Linked DNA regions of Homo sapiens: all the other regions are linked to region 1. The links come from fine-mapping of genetic effects on gene expression. A gene starts in region 1. Each other region holds a variant in brackets. All regions are shown on one strand. Distances are from middle to middle. Region 1 holds the start of CMIP (c-Maf inducing protein). Region 2 overlaps CMIP (c-Maf inducing protein). Region 3 overlaps CMIP (c-Maf inducing protein). Region 4 overlaps CMIP (c-Maf inducing protein).

Region 1 (5,146 bases):
GGCATTAGCCTCGAGAGCTGGCTTTCCGGAAACAGGACGGTAGCAGCGGGACACTCACTCCTGGCTTCTCCCAGAGGGAGAAGGGGCTCCTCCTGGCCTTCCCATGGCAGGTCACTGTTCCTTCTAACCATTTTCCTACCCCACCACCAACAACCCTTCATTTTGTGGAGTGTAAGAGGAAAAAAAAAAAAAAAGCCCAATAAAGTCCCCCTGAGCCAGGTGAAAATTCTGAAGCCAGATCTGGGGTCTCCAGAATCCAGGCAGGGGGCACCGCGGTCACCAGTTCCTCCCCACATCAGAAACACTCCGTACTGGCAAATTTTCGGAGGCTCTCTCCCGCCTCCATCCATTGGAAAGCCAAATGCTGCGGCCTGTGGCGCGGGACGGGCTTGAGAACATGCACCAGCCTGACCGGGGACTGGGCCGCCTCCCCGCGACCAGCAATCCTCCCTGAAAAAGGAGTCTTTGCAGATATTGCACCAACGTGCCCACAGGAAAGAGAAAATAGGTGCTCTAAGCATGTCGGACCCCAAATTAAGAATAAAAGTCCTCGAGGGCTGCAACGCTCTGGGGTGGGGGGTGGGGGACTGGTTCAAAGAGTAGGATTCTTCAGCTAACTTTTCCCCCCTCCCCATTCCTTGGGGCATGTGTCATGGCCTGTGACACACCGCCAAGGGAACATGGATGCCAGGGAAATGTCTACACACGCTACACGTTTGTGACATGCCATGTAAGCGACACCCTATTTCCTGGCTGGGTTTTCTTGGCACAGGTGTGGGCAGGCAGTGGATTCGGCCCCCTCCCACTGCGCTTAGTAAACAGGATCACGGTGGCCCCAGGGAGGAGTGTGCATTCTGGGGAAGACAAGCTACACCCCCAATGAGGATGGGACCCCCACGGCAAGCCTCAGGCCCAAGCCACAGCCGGTATTTGAAACTGTCCTTGTTTCAAAACACAAAGCATCCTGTTCAGGCTCCTACCCGCCACCCCCACTCTCCCCTCGACCCCACCACAGCTGTCTTTCTCCACGTACGAAGAAGGCCACCATTTGCAGATCTGATTTCAGAAACAGATCAATGGTTTTTCCTCTCCGACTCATCCAGCTGACCCAGTCCTACCCATGTATTTAAAAACAATAACAAAATTAAACCTCCAGCAACAAAACACACACGTATACACACACTCTACAGACAATGCCGGACCAGGGCTCCACCAAGCAGCTTCTAGGCTAGAACTCGACCACCGCTGGGTCCTGAGATATTCCAGGACCACTGCCCCCTCCCCCTCCACTTCCAACCTCTCAATGTGCGAATGAGATTTTCAGAAAGGGAAGCACCCCGTTCTGCCTGCCAGCCCTGGCAGGAAAGAGAATAAAGGACGGGTAAACCAAACAGAGAAACTGGCTTCTGGAAATTCTTTGGGTTTGGGGGTTTGGAGGTTTTGTTGTGTTGTTTGTTTTTTTTTTTAAATCTGAGGGGTGGTATTTTGTTTTCCCCTCCCCCACCCCTCAGATCCAGATGGGCCAGGGGCTTCCAGAGAGAACCCCCACCACCATCAGGGCCCAGCGTCGGGTCCATCCTCGAGTCCCAGCCACCAGAAACACAAGAGCTGGGGGCAGAAGGTCCCCAGGCACCCAGCCTGGCGGTGGGCCGAGTCTCCAGCATTTTAAGGGTCTCTCCTGAGCCCGGTCGGCTGGTTTGGGCTTCAGACTCCAAAATCGAGCCCCGCGAGCAGGCCAGGAGCGAGGCGCCCTGGTTCTCCCCGTTCCCCCGGCACCCCCCACCGCCCCCCAGGCCCTGGGCTCCAGGTGCAGCGCCAGGGGGCAGCCAGGGAGGGCGCATCTCGGGCCCCGAGGAGAGGCGGGGGTGCAGCCGCGCAGAGCCACTCACCGTGGCGGACGCCAGGCTGTTGTCGGCCAGCGTTAGGTGGTGCGGCTCCCAGCGCCTCAGGAATTTCGAGGTGAGGATCTTGCTGAGAAAGGTCCGCGGGTGCCGGATGACACAGACCTGAATGTCGCCCTCCTGCAGCAGTTTGTACCTCATCCCGTTGCAAAGCAGAAGAGCCCGGCGGCAGGGCACGGCGCCCATCTTCGTGCCTTCGGGGGCCGACACGTCGCCCCCCAGCAGCGGCTTGGTCTCCTCGATCTGCCGGGGGTCGCCGCCGCCGCCCGAGCTGCTGGTCACATCCATGGCCGCGCCGGGGGAGGGGGCTGGGGGCGGGGAGAGGGGGCTGTCCTGGGCTGCTGGGGCGGCGGGGCCCCCGGATCCGGCGGCCCGCACCCCCCCACCCCCCGGGAAGGTGGGGGGGTGTGGGGCTGGGGGCGCCCGCAGGGGAGGGGGCGCTGCCCGCGGGGGGCGGCGCGTGCGGCGGGCTGGGCCGGCCTCGGCGCTTCCTGCGGGGCTCCGGGCTTCCTCCTAGCTCGTCGGGTGCATGCTCGCGGCGGCTGACCGGGCTCGGCGGGCGACGGGGAGGGGCGGGGGAGGCCGAGGGCGGGCCGGGGCCAGGCGCGGAGGGCGGGCGCCGGGGTGGGGGCGGCGGGGTGGGGGCGGGCGTGTCTCGGGGCCCCGCGCCGCCGCGCGCGTGTGTACAGAGCGTGTGTCCGCGCGGCCGTCCGGGCGAGAGTGGCCGCGGGCGGGGCGGGCCGCGCGCCGGGCTCCCGGAGCCCGGGGCGCCCGCGCGATTGGTCCCCGCAGGGTCATGTGCCCGCCCCTCTGACGTCAATGGCGGCAACGGCGGCGGCCGCGGCGGCTTCGGCCTCTCGCGGGCGGAGTCCGCGGTCCGGGCGGGGTCGCGGCCCACGACGGGGAGGCGCGGCCCGACGGGAGGGGCAGCCCCTGGGGAGGGGGCTGGGGCGGGCGAGCCCCGCGGGGTCCCGGCCCGCCCCGCCTGGAATGTGGGGAGGGGGCGGGGCGCGGGGGCGGGGCGCGTGACGTCACGCCAGCCGCGCCCCCGCGGGTGCCCGGGCGGGAGCCCAGCCAGGCTGCCGGAGCCTGGGGGCCCGCGCCTCACCCACCCCCGCCGCCCCCGGGCCGGACTCGGACGGGTAAAGAAGGATACCCGAGGGCCGGGGGCTGGGTGGAAGGACGGGGACTGGAACCCTCGACCCCTGACGCCCCCTCCGCTGTCCAGGCTGTCCAGCGGGCTGGCCAGATGGGGCCGTGGGACGGGGACGCCTTCCCGACTGAAAGTGTCCCCGCGGTGATCCGGAGGATGAGCCCACCCTGCCCTGTCTCCCACTGCGGGACCCAGCCGGCCTCGAACTCCTGGCCTTTGACGTCTGCTGGCTTTGGCCTTGGGGGTCCTCAAACCTTCTGGAGAGAGGGGACGGTCCGCCCATCCCCCTTCTTTCTTCTGCCCAGGGAGACAGAGCCTCTTCTAGGAACCCACTTAAAGCACCCCCCAACCTACACAGCCACCCCTCTTGTGCGCACCCCAGCAGCTCCCCCTACTTCACCTTCCCTGGGACCCCACCTGGTCATTTTATCTGAGTTCACAGGCCCAGCACCAGCCCACGAGAGAACCATATTCGATTCTCTTGTGACCCAGGGTATCAGGAACTGCAGCCTGGATGCAAAAAGCTCCCTTTCTGCCATCACAAGCAGCCGGCACCTAAGGCCACCTAGCAAATGCTCAGCTCCTCAGCCAGGTTTTCTTATCTCCACGTGCTCCTGCAGCTAATAACGTTAAAACCCTAGATTTTTGCCTTTTTAAGTGAAGGCGCCTCTGTAGTGAACACATGAATGTGTGCAGCGTGTGTTGAACTGCGTCGTGAACACTGCGGAATATCCACAGCATCTGTGCCGTTGGTGGAAATTATTCACCCCCCCTCTCCCAAGAACAGGCAGCATGAAGGTGCTCCCCAGAGGACCCTCTCCCCGAGCCTGGCCAGGGTTTCAGGCAGGGGATGAAAGGCAGGTCCCAGGCTGCATCCCTCACCAAGGAAAGAAGACTCACATCCAGCCTGCCCAGGAGATGCCTCCTTGGGGAGGCACAATTAGATTAGAAAGTTAGAAATTCCTTAGCTCCCCACAATTTGCTGCCATTTCCTTCCAGTTTTGAGCTTGAACAGCCTTGAGAAAACCACCAAGCATGAAGGGGCAAGCCCTAGATATGTGGGTGTTGGGGGGTGGTTGGGGCCAAGAAACCCCCCAGTCCATTAAGCGGGTGGGATTAGATCCTTTGTTCAAATATTTTCATTGAGCTCCTGCTGTATGCTGGTCACAGGCCAGGCACTAGGGTATTAATGGTAATGACTATAATAACCACAGTGGCCAGAGGCTTCCTATGTGCTAAGAATTTTGTACGCACACATCATTCTCTTCTCACACCCTATGACATAGGTGCTGTCCTCATCCTCAACCACAAAGCATGGAGGTCAGAGTCCAGAACAGTAACAGACATTGTGCTTGGTGCTCCAGGAACAGAAAGGGGGATGTCTAACCCAGTGTGGGGGACCAGGGTACTCTAAGAGTTCTTTAGGAATCAAGTAAAGAAGGGGATAGGTGCTCCAAGAAGACGAACTGGCTCCTACCAAGGCAAAGAGATGGGAGGATGCTCAGCTTGTTCAGGAAACTGAACTCACTTGCCATGGGGTGCAAGGTCCCTGGAGGAGGTGGAGCAGAGATGTAGGCGGTGAGCAAGCAGCACCCTGAAATGCAAACCCAGGGACTAGAGCAGTGGGGAGACACCACATGGGCCATGCAAAGGAGTGACTTGTACATGGCTTCTTCAAAAGGCTGCAGTGTGGCACAGATGAGCATTGCAGAGGAGAAACCTAGAGGCAAGGAGGCCAGTGAGGAGACTTTCATGCTCACCTACCCCCCACAGAAGGAAGCAACAAGGGCTAGCACAAAGTCACTGGGTGGAGTGGCCCAGTGGCAAGCAAAGCAGCTGCTGTCCACTTCGGGGACATCTGTGGACACGCCCCTACCCATACAGGGCACAAAACTCCAGTAGAAGGAGGAGATTTAGCAGGATGCAAATCCCTGATATATTCCAGGACCATTCCAGACATCCTCCATGCAGCCCAGTACAGTGGTTGATTTGTAAACATTAAGTAGGACATACCGTGATAATAATGACCGGTACCCAAGCACCAGATACCATGCTGGAGGCCTTATGTATTTGTTCTCGTTTATTCCTCCCC
Region 2 (5,146 bases), 260 kb before region 1:
CTGGTCCCTCTGTCGTGTGCCCCCACTGCCTGGACCTGATGTCCCCAGAGCTTGCCTGCCACACCCCAGATCAGGCCCGAGGCCTCCCCACTAAGGGAACCCCGGATGGTCCCCCCGTCGTCATTGACTCGGTGCTGCTTCTTGAAAGCAAGCCTCAACCTCTGGTTTGTGTTGGAGTCGCACGGGGGGCAGACCCCTCCACCCACTCCCAGAGACGCTGAGCAGGGCCGCAGCAGGGACCAGGAATCTGTGCTGTTGATGAGGACCGCGCCCCCCCGGGGGACTCCAGTGGAAGCAGCGCATCTGCATTTGCAGCCAAACTGGCCGAGCGCTGCCGCTCTGCCTCCACTGACCCAGTCACCTGCTCCCACCTCCTCCCAAGCCACCCAGCATTTGCCAGCGGCCCGGTAGGAGTCATGGCCCCTGCTCAGGGTGCCTCCCCCTTGGCCAACTCCCACAAATCTGTCTTCACACCCAGACTCAACAGCACCTCCCCGGGAAGCCTTTTCTGACTCTTCCCACTGAGCCACGGGTCTTCCCGTCTAAAGCAGTGGGCCTGGAAAAGGGAAAGCTGGTCAAATACAGAATCCCGGGCTCAATATCCCTGAGGCTAGTTCAGTCACCTGGGGTTTGGCACACAGGAACTGGCCTTTCTAGGTTCCTTGAGAATTCTGTGCCTCCTTCTATTATGACAGGGCTTCTCAAATGTCAACGGGCACGGGAGCCTCCCAGGCATCTGCTTACCGTACGGTGTCTGAGTCAGGAGGTCTGGAGTGGGCTTGGGAATGTACATTTCTGACCAGCCCCCAGAAGACGCTGCCACCACTGGTCAGGGGACCACAGTGGCAATGTACTACAGCCCCGTCCTTGAACTCGACCCCTCAGTGGACTGTGAGTGTCAAGAGGCTATGGGCTGGCCTTACTCATTTTTTCTATTGCCTCTAGAATATAAGCTCTCTGAGGTTAGGGATATTTTTCCCTGTGTTGTTCCTGGCACATGGAATGGTGCCTGGTCCACAGCAGGTGTGCAGTGAACACGTTTGTGAATGAACGAATTTCTCTATCTGTGCATGGTGCAAAGTCAGTGCTTGGCCAGTTTGGCTGAAGCAAGGAAGGAATGAATCAAGCGGCCCCTCACCCCCCAGCTGCCCCGGAGGCACTCACAGCTCAGGGCCAGCAGGCCAGCGTCTGTGACCGGGGTCTCGCACAGGTTCAGCACCTGGAGCATGGTGAGGTGTTCCGACAGGAGCCGAAGGCCAGCGTCTCCAAACTGTAGAGCACAGAAACTCTCAGCCCTCTCCCGGCCACTCCTGGGGAAGTGACTCTGAGGCTGGGGCAGAGGTGGAGGAAAGGGATGGGGACAGAGCCTGGCTCTGAGGCCCATGGCCCACCAAGCCCTGGGGTCTGGGCTGCGTTCACGTCCCCTAAACAATCCCACGCCTCTCTGAACCGGGTTAGAATCCAGCTTCTGCTGTTGGGAGTGGAGCCAGGCCAGGGCCCCCTTGGAGTCAGTTTTGCCTCCATGAAGGAGGGCTTTGAACTTGTCTCTCCCTAGCTTCGAGATGCTGCCTAGGTGGCTTTCTCCTGCTGGGTGGACAGTGGAAGGACAGGGCTGGGCCGGGGGCAGGCTGCAGGGACTGTCCCCAGTTTCTCCTCTGGAAAATTAGGGTGAGGGTAGAACCTGCACTTCACAGGTGTGCAGTGAAGGCCCCTTCATCTGCCCTGTGCAGAGTACTGAGCAGTGCAGTTCACACTGAGCTGGGACTCAGCAGCCACTGGTGTTACTATAACAAAAAGACCCAGAAGCCTCCTGCGCAGCCCCCCGCAGGCCAGCGAAGCCTGGCTCACGTCTCAGCTCTACCTCTCAGAACCTCAGGACTCGGAACTGGGCACATTATTTCCAAATGGGAAATGGGCTGCAGGGCTTCATGAGGTCCTCAACCTCCTCTAGCCTCAGGGAGTGGGTGCTGAGCTTGAGGGAAGGGTCGTGTGGTAAGCAATGCCTGGGGTGTAGGCAGGGAAGCGGGTGAGGGGCAGGGAGGAGGGTGAGGGGGCAGGGAGGAGGGTGACGGGGGCAGGGAGGAGGATGAAGGGGTAGGGAGGAGGGTGAACGAGTTAGGGAGGAGGGTGAGGGGACAGGGAGGAGAGTAAGGGGGACAGGGAGGAGGGTGAGGGGGCAGGGAGGAGGGTGAGTGGGTGGGGGGGTGAGGGGGCAGGGAGGAGGGTGAGTGGGCAGGGAGGAGGGTGAGGGGAAAGAGAGGAGGGTGAGGGGGCAGGGAGGAGGGTGAGGGGGCAGGGAGGAGGGTAAGTGGGTAGGGGAGGGGGAGGGGGCAGGGAGGAGGGGGAGGGGGCAGGGAAGAGGGTGAGGGGAGCAGGGAGGAGGGTGAAGGGGCAGGGAGGAGAGTAAGGGGGGCAGGGAGGAGGGTGAGGGGGCAGGGAGGAGAGTAAGGGGGACAGGGAGGAGGGTGAGGGGGCAGGGAGGAGGGTGAGGGGAGCAGGGAGGAGGGTGAAGGGGCAGGGAGGAGAGTAAGGGGGGCAGGGAGGAGGGGGAGGGGGCAGGAAGGAGGGGGAGGGGGCAGGGAGGAGGCTGAGGGGAAAGGAAGATGGTACGGGGGAATAGGGAGGAGAGTGCAGAGGTGAAGGAGGAGGGTGTGGGGGACTGCAGCAGGGCGGGAGGACGTACCTGAGTGGACCACAGGTTCAGCTGCTTGAGCGAAGGCAGTTTGATGAGGTGCTCGGCGCAGGCACTGGTTACATTGGTGAAGGCCAAACTGAGGTTCTCCAGGTTTCCGAAGGAGCCGGAGCTCAGCAAACGAGCCAAGTCAGCGTCCTGCGGGCAGACGGGGGAGAGGCCTGAGGGTGCTGCTGGGAGTTCCCGAGACCCTGAGCCCTCCTATCCCCTATCCTCCTCCTCTCCCCTCGCCCTACAGAGAGCTGTTCCTGGGGGGCGGTAAATCCCAGGAGCTGAGATGGGGGCACAGCTCGGTGGGATGGGCCAAGGGGGTGGCCAGAGAGGGAGGGGCTGCCACGCATCCCATGGACGACAGCTGCCAGGCGGAGGAGAAAGCCTCCAGTGCTGTGACTCACACCCTGAGGCACCAGCGGGGTGTTCCAAGGCCACGATCCTCCCACAGGCGTCTGTGTGTGTGTGT[GTC/C]TGTGTGTGTGTGCCTGTATGTGTGTATATCTGTGTGTGTCTGTGTGCACGTTTGTGTATGCATGTGTCTGTACATGTGTGTGTCTGTGCACGTCTGTGTATATTTGTGTGTGTGTGTGTTGGTGTGTCTCTGTGTGTCTGTGTCTGTGCATCAGGGTGTGTGACTGGCTGCCTCACTCCTGGGCAGCAGCTCATGCCAACACTGAGGCCACACTCAACTCTAATGCCTGAAGACACCAGCGCATGCCTGAGCACCGGACTGGGAGGTTCCTAAGACAACCTCCACACTCCCCTCCATCCTTGAGTGTCAGCGGCCCTGTGGCTGCCCGGAATGAAGGCTGATTTAGTGTGTGGCCCCACACACTAAATCTGGAAAATGGGATGTAAGTAGACATGTCAAGTAGAACTTCCAGGAAGTTTCTTAAGAGGAAGGGGCACGTTCTCCTTCCTGCTGGCTGGAATGGAGACAAGAGGTCTGGAGCCTGAGCAGCCCTTTTGGTCCAGGAAGTAGAAGCCATGTGTCAAATATAATGGGGGCATCAGAATAGAAGGAAATAAGACCCTTAAAGACCTTGTGAAATGCGAATGGTAAGATACACAAGCTTCCAAGGGTTGCTGTGAGGATAAAACAAACTAATAGAAGAGCATCTGACACACAAATGCTCAAGGTATATCTGCTATTATTCCAAGTACTATTAATAACTAGATATCAACACTATTATCACCAACAATCTGTATCATATTTTAACTTCCTTTTTGGTTTTCATTTCTCTTCCTGTAACCCAGCTACCTCCTGGAAGAGCTGGCGTGTTAAGTACTAGGGGGTCCTTGTGCCCCGCCCTCCATCACCTCCCATCTCAGCAGCAGACACCACCTGCCGTTCCCCAACAGAGAGGACCAACCCACCTTCTCCATCCAGCCCCAAAGAGAACCAAACCAACTCACTGTGGACTTGGAGGGCAGTGTTAGCCTGGTGGGCCCGCCTTTCCTTTGCTGCAACAGAAACCAGGCTGGTTACAACCATTCTTTTCCCCAAGTTTCCATTCTAGACTTCCACCTCTGTTAACAACACTCATGGAGCCATCGTTATTTTCTTGGTGGTACAAGGCAACACGGTGGTCTTGGTCTCAGGGGCAAACCCGGAGATGAGGTTTGAGCACAGGTGGTTTACTGGAGGGTGATCCCAAGAAACACCAGTGGGAGAGTGGGGAAGTGACACTGTGGCTACCTATAATGGAAGGGGTGTTATCAATCCAGCTATCACTGGGTGGGTACTGGCACCAAATCCCACCGGGGGACTCTAAGAAATGGTGGAGAAGCCATGTCTCAAACATATCTCACTGAAGGGGTGAGGGAGCTGGGGTATTTCTACACACTCTCCCCAGAAGGGACTGGTTGAGGGCTGCTCCAGGAGATCAGAAGGCATGAATTTCCTGCCCCTTCCGTCCTTCTGTGTACACATGTGTGAGTATATGCATGTGGACATACAAAGTCCTTCAGCAAAGAGGTGTGGGTGCTGGCATTTGGAAGTTGGGTCCCCCATGTACTGAAATGGAAGGGTCTAAGGGACATGGAGGAGGGAGGGTGGGCAATGTCCTGGCCAGGCCCCAATGAGCTGTGTGACTCTGGGGATTGCTTTGCTTCTCTTTGATTACCTGAAAAGTGGCAGGTGGTAATACCAATTTCTGGGGTTTGGAGGAGAATTCAACGAGATTGAGGTCCACTCAGGTCCAAGTACTAGCTGCCCCGCATCCCGCCCTGGCCCCCCCTGGCCTGCTGGGCAGGGGAGTGGTCCGGAGCAGCCGGGGACTCACCAGCTCCTTCAGCTCCCGCTGCCGGTCACACAGCTGCTCGTACATGCGCTTCCCCACGTCTGTGCTCTCCAGGGTTGAGATGATCTGCAGTTGGGTGTCGTTGTTGTCGATGATGTTGTATTCCAGCATCAAGCACAGGATCTGTCCAGAACCGCAGGGGTGCATTACGGACCCGGCC
Region 3 (5,146 bases), 32 kb before region 1:
AAAGTCATAGAAAATGAAGAGAGAATGGTGGCTGCCAGGGGCTGGGGGAGGGGGACTAGGAGTTAACATTTAATGGGGACAGTTTCAGTTTGAGAAGATGAGAAAGTTCTGGAGATGGATGGGGGTGATGGTTGTGCAACAATGTGAACGTACTCAATGAACTGCACACTTAAAACTGGTTAAAATGGCCCATTTTATGTTACGTGTATTTTATCACCATTTAAAAAAAGGTCACATGCTGACAGTCCCTCAAGACATTCATTGCCCACCTCAGCTACCTGTAGCCCCCACCTCCTTACCATAGGAGATGACATCTTCCCAGTTTTTCCAGGCGAGCAACTTCGAGTAGCTGACCGCCCTCTTTACAAACAGGATGGAGGCTACGCATGTGTTTTCTCTGTGGGGCAAGGCCAGATTAAGCAAAGAAAACACAGCAGCTCCTTCCCCCTCCCCCCAGGAAAAACCCTGTCCGGTCAATAGCAGAACTAAAGAGCTGGTGCACACTTTCACTTCCCACTCGAGTGCCTGAGGACCCGGCTTCTCCTAGGCGTCCAGCAAAGCCCAGACTTAAAGGTGGCAGGTGCTGTCCTCTCACCCTGCTTCGGGTGAGGACGGGTCTCCAACTGAGCTCCAATGAACAAGACGAGGCTGGGCTGGCTCCAGGAGGCAATTTCTGGCTGGGAGGTGGGGAAGAAAGACCCAGAAGAAGGGCAGGGTGTGACAGAGGGACCTGAATCCCAGAGCCCTGGGTCTCCTGCTCCCCTCCCTGAGTGCCTCTGGATATGGCGCTTCCAGGCTGGCCCTCAACGTCCACACCTATAGGAACAAGAGAACTGAATTCAAGTGGGAAAAGCAAATGGGTTTATCTCAGGTGCCAACTTCTTCCCACCGGGAGGCTCTGGGGTGGCTGCGGCTCTGCAGGGCACCAGGAGGACCAACAAGGGCTGGAGGGTGGAGGGGACCACACATGGTCTGTGCATTCACCATCCCTGCATGAGATCCCTTCCATAATTCCTCAATGGAATTCCATGAATGTGCTTTCTGGATCTAGAACGCACTCGGTGGCCTCCCTGACTGACACATGTCCATCTGACCTTTGCTTGCACACCTGCTTTCTCAGGGAGCTCACTATCTTCTCCGGCAGGCTGCTCCTCTCCATACAGGACGCCAAAATCTCGGCCCTACAACCCCTTCCCAGGAGCTGCTGGCGCCATGCAGAACTGTCGGCTCCCTGTTCTACTCTACGGCTTGCTGATACCTTACCACTCCCTCTGCCCCTGTAAAAGCCTTGCTTCCTTCCACTGTGCTACATGTGAGTGGCTTTCAAAGGATGGCCTGTTCCGGAAGCTTGAGGGAATGCCCACGCAATGTGTCTCCCTGACCAGCCTTCGCCTTCCCAAGAGTGAAGTGGAGACTGGCCCTGGGATACTTTCTGGGGTGGGGGGGAAGGGCAGTGGCAGAGATGGCTAGCGTGGCCCATGCCAACACCCTATTCTGGCCTCCTCTCCCTTCTCAATAATAAAAATCCTGCTGTGGGGTGGGATTCATGGCTCCCACTTACATTTCCCAGATGCTCTTGCAGCCGGGGATGCCACATGATGGTCTGGCCAGTAAGGTGAAAGCAGAAGTCACCTTAACAGGGCAGAAGTCCTTTTCCACTCCCCTGCCACTCCCACTTTCTGCTAACTGGAATGCAAACGAAATGGTAAGATCCCATTTCCCACTAACTGGAAGGCAGGCAAAATGGCAGGAACTTGAGCCTCTCTTGGCCCATGGTGCTAAGAACGGAGGAGCAGCCACATGGAGGGGCCCTAGGCCCTCAAAGCCACAGGCCAGCCACGGCAACCCTCACACGACTTAGACCCTAGATTTCCTTTATACGAGAGAAAACAAACAAGCTTCTGCTGTGTTTAAGCTGCTGCATTTTTAAATATTATATGATCCCGGAGTCTTACATGCAGGAGCAAGGAGTTCTGAGTGCTGATGACGACAGTCCAGCCGCCTTCACACAGGGAGGGCAGCCATTGCCTTCAGTGGGAAAGGAGGGGACCTGGATGCACAGTCCATACCCTGCCCTGTATCTACCCCTTAAGAATTCAGGCTAGGTGCGGTGGCTCACGCCTGTAATCCCAGCACTTTGGGAGGCCAAGGCAGGCAGATCAACTGAGGCCAGGAGTTCGAGACGAGCCTGGCCAACATGGTGAAACCCTGTCTCTACTAAAAATATAAAAATTAGCCAGGCGTGGGTGTGGTGGTGTAA[G/T]CTTGTAATCCCCGCTACTCAGGAAGCTGGGACAGGAAATTACTTGAACCCAGGAGGCTGAGGTTGCAGTGAGCCGAGACCACACCACTGCACTCCAGCCTGGGCAACACAGCAAGATTCCATTTCAAAAAAAAAGAGTTCAGGGCCGACATTTCCAAGCCCGATGTGTATCTTCAAAATCAGAAGATAGACACAACCAGCTGCCATTTTTCAAGCATCAACCATATGCCCAGGTGCTCAGCTCAACGCGGCATGAATTAGCCCCACGAGATAAAAATGGTCCTACTATAGATGAAGCCCAAAGAGGTCCACCAAGTTGAGGCTGAAACCCAGGAGCCCTGACCTCCACGCTGGGGCTGGGGTCTTTTCATTCATCTTCACCGTCTCCTAAAGATCCTTAGGGAGCCTGAGAAGCTGAACTTGGCTGACGTCGGGAAGTAAGGACAAAAGGAAAGAAGGGGTGGGAGGGAGAAGAAACAGGAAATGGGAGAAACTCTTGGATTCCTGTAAATGGAGATTATCTATGAAGATGTTCACTGTGGCATTGTTTACAGCAGCAAAAATCTAGAAGCAATCTAGAAGACCATCAACAGAATGCATAAATAAATATGCCACGGCTTCTTCATACAATGGATCTCATATACAGAAAGTAAGCAAACTAAAAAGGCAAGTTGCACAAGAAGGCCCAAGTAATGATACTATTTATATGAAACTTTACAATCTAGGAAACATGGCCACTCTGCAGACACCGGCGCCGTCGGGAAACCTGTTCTATCAGCCATGGTCAACCCCACTGTGTTCTCTGACATCGCTGTCAACGGCGAGCCCTTGGGCCGCATCTCCTTCGAGCTGTTTGCAAACAAGTTTCCAAAGACAGCAGAAAACTTTCACGCTCTGAGCACTGGAGAGAAAGGAGTTGGTTATAAGGGTTCCTGCTTTCACAGGAACATTCCAGGGTTTATGTATCAGGGTGGTGACTTCACACGCCGTAATGGCACTGGTGGCAAGTCCATCTATGGGGAGAAATTTGAAGATGAGAACTTCATCCTAAAGCATACAGGTCCCGGCATCTTGTCCATGGCAAATGCTGGACCCAACACAAACGGTTCCCAGTTTTCCACACGCACTGCCAAGACTGAGTGGTTGAACGCAAGCACGTGGTCTCCGGCAAGGTGAAAGAAGACGTGAAGACTGTGGAGGCCATGGAGCACTTTGGGTCCAGGAATGGCAAGACCAGCAAGAAGATCACTATTGCTAACTGTGGACAACTTGAATAAAGTTTGACTTATGTTTTATCTTTTTTTTTTTTTTTTGAGAAGGAGTCTCACTCTGTCACCCACGCTGGAGCGCAGTGGAGCAATCTCAGCTCACTGCAAGCTCTGCCTCCCGGGTTCATGCCATTCTCCTGCCTCAGCCTCCCAAGTAGCTGAGACTACAGGCGCCCCCCACCACACCCAGCTAATTTTGTTTGTATTTTTAGTAGAGACAGGATTTCACCGTGTTAGCCAGGATGGTCCTGATCTCCTGACCTCATGATCCACCTGCCTCAACCTCCCAAAGTGCTGGGATTACGGCAGTGAGCCACCACACCCAGCAACTTGTGTTTTATCTTAACCATCAGACCGTTCCTTCTGTAGCTCAGGAGAGCACCCCTCTGCCCCATTTGCTCACAGTATCCTAGAATCTTTGTGCTCTCACTGCAGTTTCCTTTGGGTTCCATGTTTTGTTCCCTTCCATGCCTAGCTGGATTGCAGAGTTGAGTTAAGTTTATGATTGTGAAATAAAAGCTATATAATAACAAAAAAAAAATCTAGGAAACATTATGGAGTGTTCTATAAGAGTATGTAGTTGTACAAGTACAAAAATATGCACAAGAATAAACATCAAAGTCGGGGCAGAGAAAAGGAAGGGTTTGAAATCAGAGAACGGTACATCAGGTATTGCAACTGGAATGGTTTATTTCTTCCGCTGAGTGGTTACACTGAAATATTATTTTATACCCTGCTTTGCATGGCTGAAACAGATCATCATTTTAAAAGCAAAGGGAGAATATGCAGTTTATTGCATGTCAACTTTATCTGAAAGCAATTTTTTTTATGCACCTAGAGAGAAAGAGACAGAGAGAGAAAGAGACAGGAGGGAGGGAGGGAGAGAAGGGAGGAAAGGGTTAAGGCCTCCAGACACAGCATCTTCTCCTCATGGCCCACCCTCCTCTCCAGAGGGCCAGCCATGCTGACCACAGCAGCTCCATTCATGAAGCCACAAGGCCACGGTGAAGAGGGCCACTTAAACTCCATGTTGCTGAAGGCTCCTTAAGTGAAGTGACATCCCAAACCTTCCAAAATGAGTTACCCTCAGGCCTGGCCACCCCCAGAACCACATTCAGTCCACCAGCAGTTCTGCAAAGACAAGCACTGGTCGACTCCCTCCCCGCCCGCCCCCCATGGCTGGAGGCAGGGCAGCCAGGCTGGCAGGGCCTAGGCACAGAGACTGTCCTGGGCTGGCTCCCCTGGCACCAAGGAGGCAGGAAGGGCGTGCAGGAGAGGCAGGACCAGAGGAGAGGGAGCCCCAGGAGGAGGGCGCCATGAGCACGGCCAACACTGAGGCCCCTCCGCAGGCGGACAGTGGTTCCTCCACTTCCCCCATCATTCCCCTTCCACAGAAGTGCGGTGACACGGAAGAGACCACACAGTAAGAAGACACCAGGGGCTGGGGCTCCCTGCTCCTCTGACCTGACTCAGTTCACCCCTGGGATCCTCACGCAGCACCTCCCACCAGAGGTGTGGTCTGAAGGTAGGGAGAAGCCACCATGAACCCCTCACATGAAGCAGAAGTAGTGTGCGACGTGCCTACCTGGTGGCCCCCGGTAAGCACCAGATGAATGGG
Region 4 (5,146 bases), 240 kb before region 1:
GGGTTGAAGCAAACTGGCCAGAGACGGTCTCCAGTCATCATAGTCTGACCTAGAATGAGAGAGGGTGACAGTCAGCTTTGGTTGGGACAAGGAAGGTTTATGGCACTGTTTTTGGTCCCAGATGGGCCAAAAGATGGGGTGAGAGCCTGGCAGGTAGTCAGTGGCACTGACTTCTCCACCCACTTCCACCTCCAGGATGAGCAAGTCAATGTTCTCAGCGTGGCCTCAAGGACTCACAACTGGGCCTGTGCAGAGACTTCCTCATGGCACCCGAGGGGGTGAGCTGTCTATTCCCCAGACTTCACAATGCCCTTTGAACCAAGGCTACGTGATCATTGTTCATGCCCTCTTTGGGACCATTAGGGGGTGTTTTAGGCTGAACTTTGCCCCCCATTCATATACTGAAGCTCTGCACCCCAGTACTTCAGAATGTGACTGTACTGGGAGACACAACCTTTAAAGAGGTGATTAGGTTACAATGAGGCTGTAGACGGATGTCCTTAGAAGAAGAGGAAACACGGACACGCAGAGCAAAGACCAGCCAGGACTCAGCGAGAAGGCAGCCATCTGCAAGCCAGGAGAGAGGCCTCCAGAGAAACCAGCCCTGCCCACACCTTGATTTCAGGGTTGTGCCTTCCCGAACTGAGAGAAATACATGTTTGTTGAGTAAGCTATGAGGTTGATGGTACTTTATAGCAGTCCTAGCAAACTAATGTAGGGGGCTTAGGCTGGGACCCTGGGGCCATTCTCACCTTTCTGTGATCAGAACTGAGGGAAAATTCTATAGACAGAATCATAAACAACAAACATTCTAAGCTGTTTGTTTGTAGTTTGGGTCAAACCTCCTGATTTGTTGGATCCCTTTTTTTTCTTTTTCTAAAATTTATTATTATTATTTGAGACACAGTCCTACTCTGTTGCCCAGGCTGGAGTGCAATGGCACGATCTCAGCTCACTGCAACCTCCACCTCCTGGGTTCAAGTGATTCTCGTGCCTCAGCCTTCCGAGCAGCTGGGATTATAGGCGTGCGCCACTATGCCCAGCTAATTTTTTGTATTTCTAGTAGGGATGGGGTTTTGCCATGTTGGCCATGCTGGTCTTGAACTCCTGGCCTCAGGTGATCTGCCTGCCTCAGCCTCCCAAAGTGCTGGGATAGGCCAGGTGTGGTGGCTCACGCCTGTAATCCCAGCTGCTCAGGAGGCTGAGGCAGGATAATTGCTAGAACCTGGGAGGCGGAGGCCGCAGTGAGCTGAGATCACCCCACTGCACTCTAGCCTGGACAACAGAGCGAGACTCAGACTCAAAAAAATAAATAACTCAAAGTGCTAGGATTACAGGTGTGAGGCACCATGCCTGGCCTTGGTGGATACTTCTATTTTTGCTTTCAGACAACAGCTTTTCTTCTTTTCTAAGAGTTGATGCTAAATACCCAGGAATCCAACTTACAAGGGAAGTGAAGGACCTCTTCAAGGAGAACTACAAACCACTGCTCAATGAAATAAAAGAGGACACAAAGAAATGGAAGAACATTCCATGCTCATGGATAGGAAGAATCAATATCGTGAAAATGGCCATACTGCCCAAGGTAATTTATAGATTCAATGCCATCCCCATCAACCTACCAATGACTTTCTTCACAGAATTGGAAAAAACTACTTTAAAGTTCATATGGAACCAAAAAAGAGCCCACATTGCCAAGACAATCCTAAGCCAAAAGAACAAAGCTAGAGGCATCACGCTACCTGACTTCAAACTCTACTACAAGGCTACAGTAACCAAAACAGCATGGTACTGGTACCAAAACAGAGATACAGACCAATGGAACAGAACAGGGCCCTCAGAAATAATACCACACATCTACAACCACCTGATCTTTGACAAACCTGATAAAAACAAGAAATGGGGAAAGGATTCCCTATTTGATAAATGGTGCTGGGAAAACTGGCTAGCCATATGTAGAAAGCTGAAACTGGATCCCTTCCTTACACCTTATGCAAAAATTAATTCAAGATGGATTAAAGACTTAAATGTTAGACCTAAAACCATAATAGCCCTAGAAGAAAACCTAGGCAATACCTTTCAGGACATAAACATGGGCAAGGACTTCATGACTAAAATACCAAAAGCAATGGCAACAAAAGCCAAAATTGACAAATGGGATCTAATTAAACTAAAGAGCTTCTGCACAGCAAAAGAAACCACCATCAGAGTGAAAAGGAAACCTACAGAATGGGAGAAAATTTTTACAATCTACCCATCTGACAAAGGGCTAATATCCAGAATCTACAAAGAACTTAAACAAATTTACAAGAAAAAATCAACCCCATCAA[A/C]AAGTGGGCGAAGGATATGAACAGACACTTCTCAAAAGAAGACATTTATGCAGCCAACAGACACATGAAAAAATGCTCATCATCACTGGCCATCAGAGAAATGCAAATGAAAACCACAATGAGATACCATCTCACACCAGTTAGAATGGCGATCATTAAAAAGTCAGGAAACAACAGGTGCTGGAGAGGATGTGGAGAAATAGGAACACTTTTACACTGTTGGTGGGACTGTAAACTAGTTCAACCATTGTGGAAGACAGTGTGGAGATGCCTTGAGGATCTAGAACTAGAAATACCATTTGACCCAGCCATCCCATTACTGGGTATATACCCAAAGGATTATAAATCACGCTGCTATAAAGACACATGCACATGTATATTGATTGCAGCACTATTCACAATAGCAAAGACTTGGAACCAACCAAAATGTCCATCAATGACAGACTGGATTAAGAAGATGTGGCACATATACACCATGGAATACTATGCAGCCATAAAAAAGGATGAGTTCATGTCCTCTGTAGGGACATGGATGAAGCTGGAAACCATCATTCTGAGCAAACTATCGCAAGGACAGAAAACGAACACCGCATGTTCTCACTCATAGGTGGGAACTGAAAAATGAGAACACTTGGCCACGGGGTGGGGAACATCACACACCGGGGCCTGTTGTGGGGTTGGGGGAGGAGGGAGGGATAGCATTAGGAGATATATCTAATGTAAATGATGAGTTAATGGGTGCAGCACATCAACATGGTACATGTATACATATGTAACAAACCTGCACATTGTGCACATGTACCCTAGAACTTAAAGTATATTAAAAAAAAACAGAGTTGATGCTAATGACGGTAATAACAATGACAATAACAACAGCAGCTCCGATGTCACGGAGACTTTCCACACACACTGCAGGATGCTAAGGGCTATACCTTAGTTCATTTACTCTTTACAAGAGCACAATAAAGTCAGTGTGACTAACCCCACTTAACAGATGACGAACTGGAGGCTCAGAGGTTTAAGGTCACACAGCTGTGGCATATGAGGAGTCAAATCCAGGCTTCTGTGACAGCAGAGCCTTGGCTCTCACCAGCCCTGAAAGGCCACGGCTGTGATCTTAGCAAAAGCCAACGCCTGCCTGGGTAAGGAAGGAGGGCTAAACCTCAGTGAGAGCAGCTGCGGGAAGCACCGTGCTGTTCACCTGACTTCACTTAACCCTTTCATGAAAGAGCCTCCTTCCTGTGTGCAGAGACAGCGGGAGAGGTCAGTTACCCACTCCGAGTCATCTACACAGCCTAGGAAGGGGTAAAGCTGGACTCAGAACCAGGTATTTCAGGCTCTATCACACCATGGTGTGTGGTGAAGCCAGGCACCAGGGTGTCACCCCCATCCGACCCTGGGAAGACCACTGTCCCACAACCGAACAGTATTAGCACTGCTGATAACGCAGATGCAATTCGCTCTGCGCTGCCTGCGCACCGGGGCTTGAAGTAAGGGCACTGCTTGTGTTCGCTCATGGGATCTACCCAGAGGACCCTGTGTGCTGAGTCCAAATTACGGACAAGGAGCAGTATGGCAATTCACTGACCGTGACCACAGGGCTGTGATACAGCCAGGCCACAGCAGGGAAGCAATAGCTTCGGGAGTTTCCTGAGGCCCAACAGGCTGCTTCCCGACCACCTACCAGCACAGCTTCATAAAGAGGGAGTTTTTTGGCCAACTCTTGCCCCCAAAAGCTGGGAGCGTCCAGAGAACTCGCCGGCGTCTCAGTCTGAGTACAGATGGGCTTGTATCACACAGCAGAGCACTCACACACGGCCCCCAGAGACTGCAGTCATGACAACCCCCATTTTACAGACGAGGAAAATGAGGCTCAGAGCTGTTTGTGATTTCCCACAAGTCACCAGCAAGTGGCTGAGATCTGACCTCAGGTGCTTCAAAGACCATGACCCGTCCTCTCGGCCCCAGCACCTGCACTGTGTTTATAACCAGTTCCCCCACCTGGGTTCCGGATCTCTCTGGCTATAGGGACTCCGCGGAAAAACAAACCCAGAGGTAGTCAGTTCTCGCCTAAGCCAGGCCTGGGCACCTCTGAGGGCCCAGAGCTTAAAACCGTGACACATAAAGTGAGGGGTGGCCACTGGAGCAGTCCCCATCCGAATCACAGAGCTGTCCCTGGTGTTCCCCAGCTTCTGACCATCTTGCCTCGGACCACCCCAGGAGGGGCCCAGGTCTCATCTCTGCATCCCCCATGCTGGGCCCCGGGCTGGGTGGATGGCTGGTGCTTGGGAGGGGACTGCTGAACACAAGGCCCAGTGCACACTGGGACCGGGCCAATGACAGAGCCTGGGGCCTGTGACCGGCTTCAGAGCAGAAGGGATGTTGAGTCTCCATCTGGGGGACTAGCAAGTGCCACCAGGTGCCAAGATCGAGTGGGATGCTGACTTCGATCCTGGCTTGCACTGGGGCAGGAGGTGGGATCTGAACCCTTGTCCAGTGGTCTGTGTTGGGGAGGCGCTGCAGAGAGATGCCCCGCTGACACCTGGGCACCACCCACGGGAGAGGCCAGGGGGTGCTCAGACCCGGGCTGGGCAGAGGGGTGGTCCCGGGACCCCTACCCACATACGACTCACCACAGATACACTGTGTATCGGTTTGCGTGCTGTGTGTCTAACTGTGCCTTACATAGAAACGGGAGGAGATGTTTTTTTCACCAAGTACAAATGTTCACTCCCATCGACAACAGGCGGTTTAGATAACCCCTGAGTGAGGGCTTTTCCTGCCCCACCTTCCTCCAAATAAGCCCACGATAGAGT

The links. PIP is the estimated chance that this variant, and not a neighbour inherited with it, causes the effect. A credible set is the group of variants that fine-mapping cannot tell apart.
Region 2: its variant is the best candidate, but not a certain one, in a credible set for the expression of CMIP in whole blood (TOPMed, PIP 0.61).
Region 3: its variant is the best candidate, but not a certain one, in a credible set for the expression of CMIP in whole blood (TOPMed, PIP 0.85).
Region 4: its variant is the best candidate, but not a certain one, in a credible set for the expression of CMIP in whole blood (INTERVAL, PIP 0.75).

What each region holds. Positions count from the first base shown.
Region 1 is chr16:81,442,285-81,447,430 of GRCh38, reverse strand. CMIP (c-Maf inducing protein) reads right to left here and starts at 2,623. Exons shown (of 21, transcript NM_198390.3): 1 at 1,890-2,623. The coding sequence starts at 2,189. RefSeq lists enhancers at 1-319, 320-1,085, 3,250-3,782 and silencers at 1,631-1,930, 2,361-2,410, 2,481-2,830, 2,941-3,040.
Region 2 is chr16:81,701,623-81,706,768 of GRCh38, reverse strand. CMIP (c-Maf inducing protein) reads right to left here. Exons shown (of 21, transcript NM_198390.3): 16 at 4,969-5,109; 17 at 4,100-4,147; 18 at 2,684-2,830; 19 at 1,165-1,270. Among named protein-coding and RNA genes, the nearest start is that of PLCG2, 75 kb to the left of the region's middle. RefSeq lists an enhancer at 1,588-2,089. The variant GTC/C (reference allele first, on the strand shown) is at 3,153.
Region 3 is chr16:81,474,414-81,479,559 of GRCh38, reverse strand. The region is part of intron 1 of CMIP (c-Maf inducing protein); the gene reads right to left. It also overlaps the pseudogene PPIAP51. Among named protein-coding and RNA genes, the nearest start is that of CMIP, 32 kb to the right of the region's middle. The variant G/T (reference allele first, on the strand shown) is at 2,261.
Region 4 is chr16:81,686,678-81,691,823 of GRCh38, reverse strand. CMIP (c-Maf inducing protein) reads right to left here. Exons shown (of 21, transcript NM_198390.3): 11 at 1-49. Among named protein-coding and RNA genes, the nearest start is that of MIR6504, 78 kb to the right of the region's middle. RefSeq lists enhancers at 85-724, 4,603-5,146. The variant A/C (reference allele first, on the strand shown) is at 2,331.